Homo sapiens: one gene and its partner. The protein of the gene in region 2 purifies or fractionates together with the protein of the main gene of each other region. This does not show direct contact. Each region holds a gene or a part of one and is shown on either strand. Other genes may lie near its edges.

The links. Proteins that work in one complex are often made in the same cells at the same time.
Region 1: the proteins of NDEL1 (region 2) and CLPX purify together in Homo sapiens (co-immunoprecipitation; 3 studies listed by BioGRID and IntAct, with this or other methods). This does not show direct contact.

What each region holds. Positions count from the first base shown.
Region 1 is NC_000015.10:65,161,343-65,164,842, forward strand, and holds part of CLPX (ATP-dependent clpX-like chaperone, mitochondrial precursor), read right to left. Parts: intron 2,847-3,500; coding exon 2,687-2,846; intron 1,304-2,686; coding exon 1,262-1,303; intron 1-1,261. UniProt on the Homo sapiens protein: ATP-dependent chaperone that functions as an unfoldase.
Region 2 is NC_000017.11:8,463,384-8,466,883, forward strand, and holds part of NDEL1 (nuclear distribution protein nudE-like 1), read left to right. Parts: intron 1-3,500. UniProt on the Homo sapiens protein: Required for organization of the cellular microtubule array and microtubule anchoring at the centrosome. May regulate microtubule organization at least in part by targeting the microtubule severing protein KATNA1 to the centrosome.

The sequences.
Region 1 (3,500 bases), on a different chromosome or scaffold from region 2:
TGTACATGATTTTGGTCTAAAACCCTAGACCAGTGTTAGGGTCTAACACCCCCAGCCAGTGTTAGTTAACAACCTAACTTTAGAACTTAAAATCCCATGTAAAACACAACAAAACTGCACATGACAATAAATTTAAGCTTTTGAAATATTTGTTTCTAAGTCAATCTTTTACATAAGTTCTTAAATACTGTTACTTGTTAACATTTAAATAACATTAAATCACTACATATATTACATGACATGTCTTTCAAAATATGCACTACAGACTTTCTTTACTAATTTAGTATAGGTTAACTAGCTGTCAACACAATTTATGAGTATGGTATTGACTGCATATCTGAATATATTTTTTTATTATGAAATAAATTACATATATACCTAAAGGTTATTATTTAGATTTTACATTCTTATATACAATCTAATTCTATTGCACTTACTGTATTTCTTAATTTTACCACGCATGGTATAATCAGTATTTCTATAAATTTAAAAATAACTGGGGATAATGTAATTTTATTACATGTGATAAATGTCATGCCCAAGTTGGTACACAAGTTATATTCTCATGGCTCATCCTATATATAGTACACTTCAAATAGTGGATATATAATACTACTTGGTTCAAAGGCAAATGTAAAAACATCAAACTTAGCTAATTTTCTTTATTTCAATTACTAAAACAAAAGGCCATGTGAATCTTTCTATGACACCCCTGGAACCTCCACCCTCAATGCAGCAACTAACTATATCCACCTCCAAAGGAATAGGTGGAACACAACAGAAAGGCCACTCTCCTTGGTCTATCAAGTCCTTCCACACCCTCCATCGGACCATCTGATGCTTGTAGGGGCAATCTGGGGCTGGAAACAGTGAATTAAGACTTACTCATAATTTGTAAGACTGTAAGTTTCATAAATACAAAAAAAACCAAAAAACAGTGTGCTTTCTGGCAAAGAGTAGCTAGAAAATAATCTGCCTCCCCCAAATTCCTGTGACCCACAAGAAGCAGGCCAACTCTAATTGTAGTTTGATAGAAAAAATAAAAAATAACCCAACATATGGAAACGACACAAATTAGCTATGAAAAACTATTCCAAAGTTATATATACCATGTAGGATAAACACATTTAGATAATACGTATCTTTCTTGGTAATACACAAGCAAATACATACATGTCTATCACTGTTACTGCTGAAACACTTCACTGAAATAAATGTCAAAAGGAAGAATGATTACAGAGGAGGACCTGAAGTCACTTACTTGTAAATCTGTACTCATCCTCCCGTCTTCTTATTTCTAACTCTAAGAAAGAGGATGAAAATATTACATATTTGTTTACCTTGGGGGAACAAACAATGAGTATCCCACCTCCTGTCCTCTTTCAAATATATTTAAAGGATTTGTTCATTAACATTTTTCAGCTTTTCATATATGCTATATCTTTTCTATATTAAAACAAAACCATGCATAAAGACCGCTGTCCAGTTGCTAATATTCACATTTGTCAAATATATAATTGATATCTATTGTAAGGGTATAATAACATAAGTCTTTAATAAGAGTTTAAGCCCCTCATGCTATAAATATTATAACCATTTGCTCCTCCAGCACTTAGAATAGCTTAAATATCTATTTATTACCGAGGAAAACAAAAAAGTTTTGCTCCATAACTATCAGTGCTATTTGGACCTTATAAAAATGAAGATTTCAGGCCAGGCGCAAGAGTTCACGCCTATTAATCCCAGCACTTTGGGAGGCTGAGGCAGATGGATTGCTTGGGAGACTGAGGTGGGAGGATCACTGGAGCCTGGGAAGTTGAGGCTGCAGTGAGTCGCAATCCAGCCTGGGTGACAGAGAGAGACCTTGTCTTGAAAAAAAGAAAAAGGTTCCAAGTCATCCGTTAGTTATGACTTATACTTTCTAAAAATAACTGATACCATCACATACCTATTTTGCAGTTATGTGATGTAAGTTCAGCAAGTGAACAAGTGTCTTCATTGAAATAAATTATACATTTAGTTGCTACTAAAGGCAATCAAAGATAATGTAGACTTATAAATTTAAGTACTTAGCAGAACTCCTTCACACTGTACAGTGATAACTAAAAGAATCTAAAATGATGGAATATAGGCCTAAATCAGAAATTGGGGCTGTCTGGCCAACAAAACAAAAAATTAAATATTCATATTTACTCTATGCATAATTGTTTTTAATAAATCATTCTATTAATATACATTATTGTCCATAGTAAATTGAGATTATACAGTATACTGTATAATGACTACAGCCATGTGCCACCCCACCTGGCTAATTTTTGTATTTTTAGTAGAGACGGAGTTTCCCATGCTGGCCAGGCAGGTCTCGAACTCCTGACCTCAAGTGATCCCCCCGCCTCGGCCTCCAAACGTGCTGGGATTACCGGCATAAGCCACCATGCCAGGCCTAAGAAATAATATTTACCTTAACTGTAAGTTAATGTATTCTGTTATTTTCTATTCATATCTATCAAATTTTTAAAAAATGCTGTTGGCAAATGATTTCATAACACACTAATGGGGAATAACCTGCACTTTGAAAAATGCCACACTATATAAAAAACATTTTAAGAAGAAAGTGAGGAGTTACAAATAAAGATTACTTTTAAGCATAGCAATCTCTATTTAGGTCAATTATCAAAAACGCTACCTCTTGGTGTTAATGATGTCTGCTTCTCAACCTCTGCTTGCTGTCTCAGATTAGCTGGGATATTATTATATATTCTCTTATAATGATTGTACACAGCAACTGAAAGCACCTTCTTAGCAAATGACTGGCCAACAACATACTTGTCGAGGTAGTTATAAATCTGAAAAATGATTAGGTATGAATAATTTAATATGAGCTATTATAAGAGCACACACATTAAAAAGTTATTTACTAAGCATATTTGCTTACAGTTTTAAATCTGAACAAAGACTCTCATTAAAAACAAAATGACAATACATTATATAGCAATGATTCAGAGGCCCTGAACACTAAATGAACAAAAACACAATTCATTTGTTCTCTAGCTTAACAAAGTATCACTGTACTCTACTAGTGTTGTGCTAATTTCTATTCTATAAACAATGCTATCAATCTTTATTTTTTGATAACAAATTAAATTTAAAGTAACTTAGAATACATACACATGCCACCATGGTCTAAAAGTATCAACATTAATGTAAATCATTAAAATAAATCCATACCTGTCAATCAAATGAATAACATTCTTCACAAAGATAACATTATAAAACTACTCTTTTCAGAAACAGGCATTACATAATCAAAAGCCATTATACTATCAGTATCTATGTGTTTTAGTAAATTTAATTTTTTCTCAGACATTAACTTTAAAGCTACTCATTTATCTGAGACTCTAAAAACTGTATTCTTATTTTTTTTTATTTTCTAAAAATATATTTTTTTCTTTTTTTGATACAGGGTCTCACTGTGTCGCCAAGGCTGGTCTTGAACTCCT
Region 2 (3,500 bases):
TCATTCTTTCTTAATCCTGGTGTGTGGTGGAAGACACATTAACAATCTGGTTTTACTAACTGCATGGGGCTGACTCAGCTTTAACCAACTTACAGCCCATCAGTGAACTTTCACGGTCCTGTTCGACTTGACTGTATGCCGTTATTAGTTCAGCTGTGAGAAACAAGAACAAATTAGTTGCAGTGGTCCTGGGGTGGCTGGGAGTAGCATGCCAGGTGGCACGCCTGAGATGGGCTAGGGCGCTGTAGTGTTGATTTCAGAGTCTGGCGATGGGGGTTTGAGGTCACTGTCAGGCCCTGGGATCACCTTTGACTGTCTTCCTGGGACTGGGGGTCTTCCCGTTACCCAGTTGCTTCTGTTTTCTCAAGTCAGGCACCAGTGTGAGCATTCCCTCACCTCTGCGCTCACGCATGGAGTCCCCAGTTAAAATGGAATGGTACATGGGGACGTGTGTAAGATCTGCCTTACATTTCAGAACTGCTTTGCAGTTTGCAGAGCCTGGGCTGAGAACTGGAGCAGGCTGGAGCTGCTCTGAGCCCACACTCATCCACTGAAATAGGAGACTCAGGTGTGGCGTGTGCCTGCCTGCAGGCTCTTCTGGATAGCTTGAGCCCACCCTCCTGCCCTCTCCAGTGTCCTGATCCTTGCTGCTTTGACAGAGTTAATGTTTCCATCCTTCATCTCAGCTGCTTTGGATTTATTGTCCTGAGTAGCTTCTAAGTGTGCCTTGGCTCTTCCCCCTTTTCACTTCTTCCACTGACATTTTACAACTGACCTTAGCACTTTTTCTTAGCTGGATTCTCTATATTTCAGCCTCCTTAACTAGTCTGTGGTGGTAAGATCATGAAATTTTATAGCTCTGGAACCTTTTTTTTACATATATGATTCCCAGATCTGTATCTTCAAGCCTGCCCCATCACTCTTCCTTCAGTCCTGTCTTGTGCACTGGGACATTGCCCTGTGGCTCTTTGCTGCTCCCTGAAACTGAATCTGTTGAATATAGAGTCTCTTCTCTTGCAAATCTTTTCCCCATGCACAGCTTTGCAGGCCTCTGAAGGACTTCACTAGACCTGTCATCCCATCTAGAAGGCCAGCTTTCTTCTCTCTCTGTTCTTTAACTTTCTACTTTTTGAGTCAGGAGAGAGGCGCTAGGTGAGACCCTGGTGGATTGATGTTCCCTCTCTACTCCACCCACCTTCACATTAAGCGTTCCATTTCTGCCCATGTAGAAATTTACCGGTTCTCTCTTTATAGTCTGGGCTGCACCACTTACTTTTCCCATTAGAGCCGGCCTGCATTGGAGTGCCGAAGTGGTTGCTTCTGAGGGCTGCTAGGTGGCCTCTGACCAGGAGGAGACTAGAAAAGGGTCCTGGCCTGGGCATCTGGAGGCAGCTGTGGCCCCGACTTCCCCATCAGTGGCTCACTAGGTGAGCCTAGGCTAATGGCTGGACCTTCTCTTGCTTTGGTTGTCTTGGCAGTGGAACAGTGGGATGAACCTGTTGTTCCTTACGGTGCACTTGAAAATGCCAGAATCCCATCCTCAACCTGCTTGAGGAGCCATCTCCTAGTTGCTGCTTTTGTACACCCCCGTGGCCCAGGTGCCAGATTCTTCTTGGCATCCAATGGTGCTCCCTTTCTGCTGGGTTCCGGGCACTGTCTGCAGTACAGGTTTAGGGGCTTGCCTGCCACTGTGATGTGTGAGGCCAGGAATCTGAGGTTCACACGTGCTGAGAGCTGCAGGCATTTGTGGGGCCTGCCTGGTTGTCCCTGAGGTTTCTAGGAGAAGCAGGTGTCAGGGACTCTGGGACTAGCCAGACAGATGGAGCCTATTATATGAGGGCTACCGTGGCAAATAGGATATGGCCTTGGCCCCAGAAGAGGCACAGGCCTGTGACCTTGGGAGAGTGGGAAGGATGATTTCAAACTTGCAAATGTGTTGAAGCTCAAAAATCAGACCTAACCCAGTGAGGAAAGAGACAATCTGGCTGTTTGTCGTCGAAGTAGGACAGTGTGCAACAGGGAGAAATGACATTTGTCAGAGCCTTTCTCCTGGGGCTCTTGGTCTCTGTATGCGTGGTTGGAATTTAAACTCCACATATGTACTCTGAGTTTAGTTTCTTTAGACATGAACTTTGTTTCTTCCAAGTAGGCAGGGACTATTTGTCAAGTCTCTGCATGCCTGTTTGTCTGTGAGGTTATCCTCACCCCGTCAGTGTACGAAACAGCTGTCTCTGCAGGGAGTGTGTGTCGGCATTTTTTTTTTTTAAGGAGAACCTCTCTCCATGAGTCTGTATTTAGCTCCCTGGAGCCGTCTGATGAGTAGGTGGGGGCAGTAGTGGGCAGGTGTGGTGCAGTGTGGCCCCTTGTCGTAGTTGGCTTTATCTCCCAAATTGCTAGTGGGACAAATTTTCCTAGGAAGCGTTTCAAGGTGGAAAGGCTGAAGTGGCTCCTGAGAGAGGTTCCAGGCTGCACACTCCCTCCCCCTCTTGCTGCTTCCTGTGGCTGCGCTGCATGGTGCGTGAGGGGGATGCTTGGGGGGCTCCCTGCATCGCTGGGCTCTGGGTGCGTGATGGGGACGCTGGGGGGCTCCCTGTGTCGCTGGGCTCCGGGTGCTGGGTCCTGGCTGCAGGCTATTGGGTTGGGCTGGGCTGTCTGCACACGAGTCTGCGTTGAAAAGCCTACTCATCTGGCGTTGCTTGCTAAACAATTTTTAAAAGGTTATTTTTCTCCACCTTATTAAGATATTCGTGTATTAATACATTATATTTGGAAAATGTAAGGAGATTTGGAAAATGATTAAAAAAGGATAAAGTAGTAAACAAAATTCACCCACAGCCCAGAGGGAAGAAAAGTAACGATTCTTAAATTTTCTTTTTATGATATATATGATCCTATGTACATATATGTTGGTGTGTGTATATATATATGTGTATGCGTATATATAATGTATGTATATATACATTTATTTATACACACTCCCCCTCTGTCCCTGCTTTGTGGATTTAGCTGCATGGATAGTAATGTCTATCTAAGGGGCTATAGTCTAGAATCTAGAATATATACTATTTGCTTTTTTTTCTTTCATATCATTGAATCTACAGAGTTTGGTAACCTGCATCTTTTTCCACTTAGTGTTAGTTACATTCTGAATATTTTCCCATGCTATTAAAAAACTTGTGGAATGTGTTTTTAATGGCTGTGCAATATCTTATTGTTCAGTTGTACCATTATTTATTTAACTAGTTCCCTATTGCCAGGCATTTAGACCTGCTTTATGGGGAAAGAATCAGGACTGTGGCTTCCGTGGCCAGTGTGCGGCAGTTGCCAAACAGGTCATGTGGTCCTGGTTCCCCAGGATTCCCAAAGGCTCAATTCTCTAACCAGCTGGTGCTTTCCAGGCAGCCAGTGCCCCTTGGGCCATCAGGACCCTACAGCCTGCGAGGAATAGTTTTAGAAAGCAGATTAATTTCCTATTGTGTGTGAGTGATTTTAAATGAGTT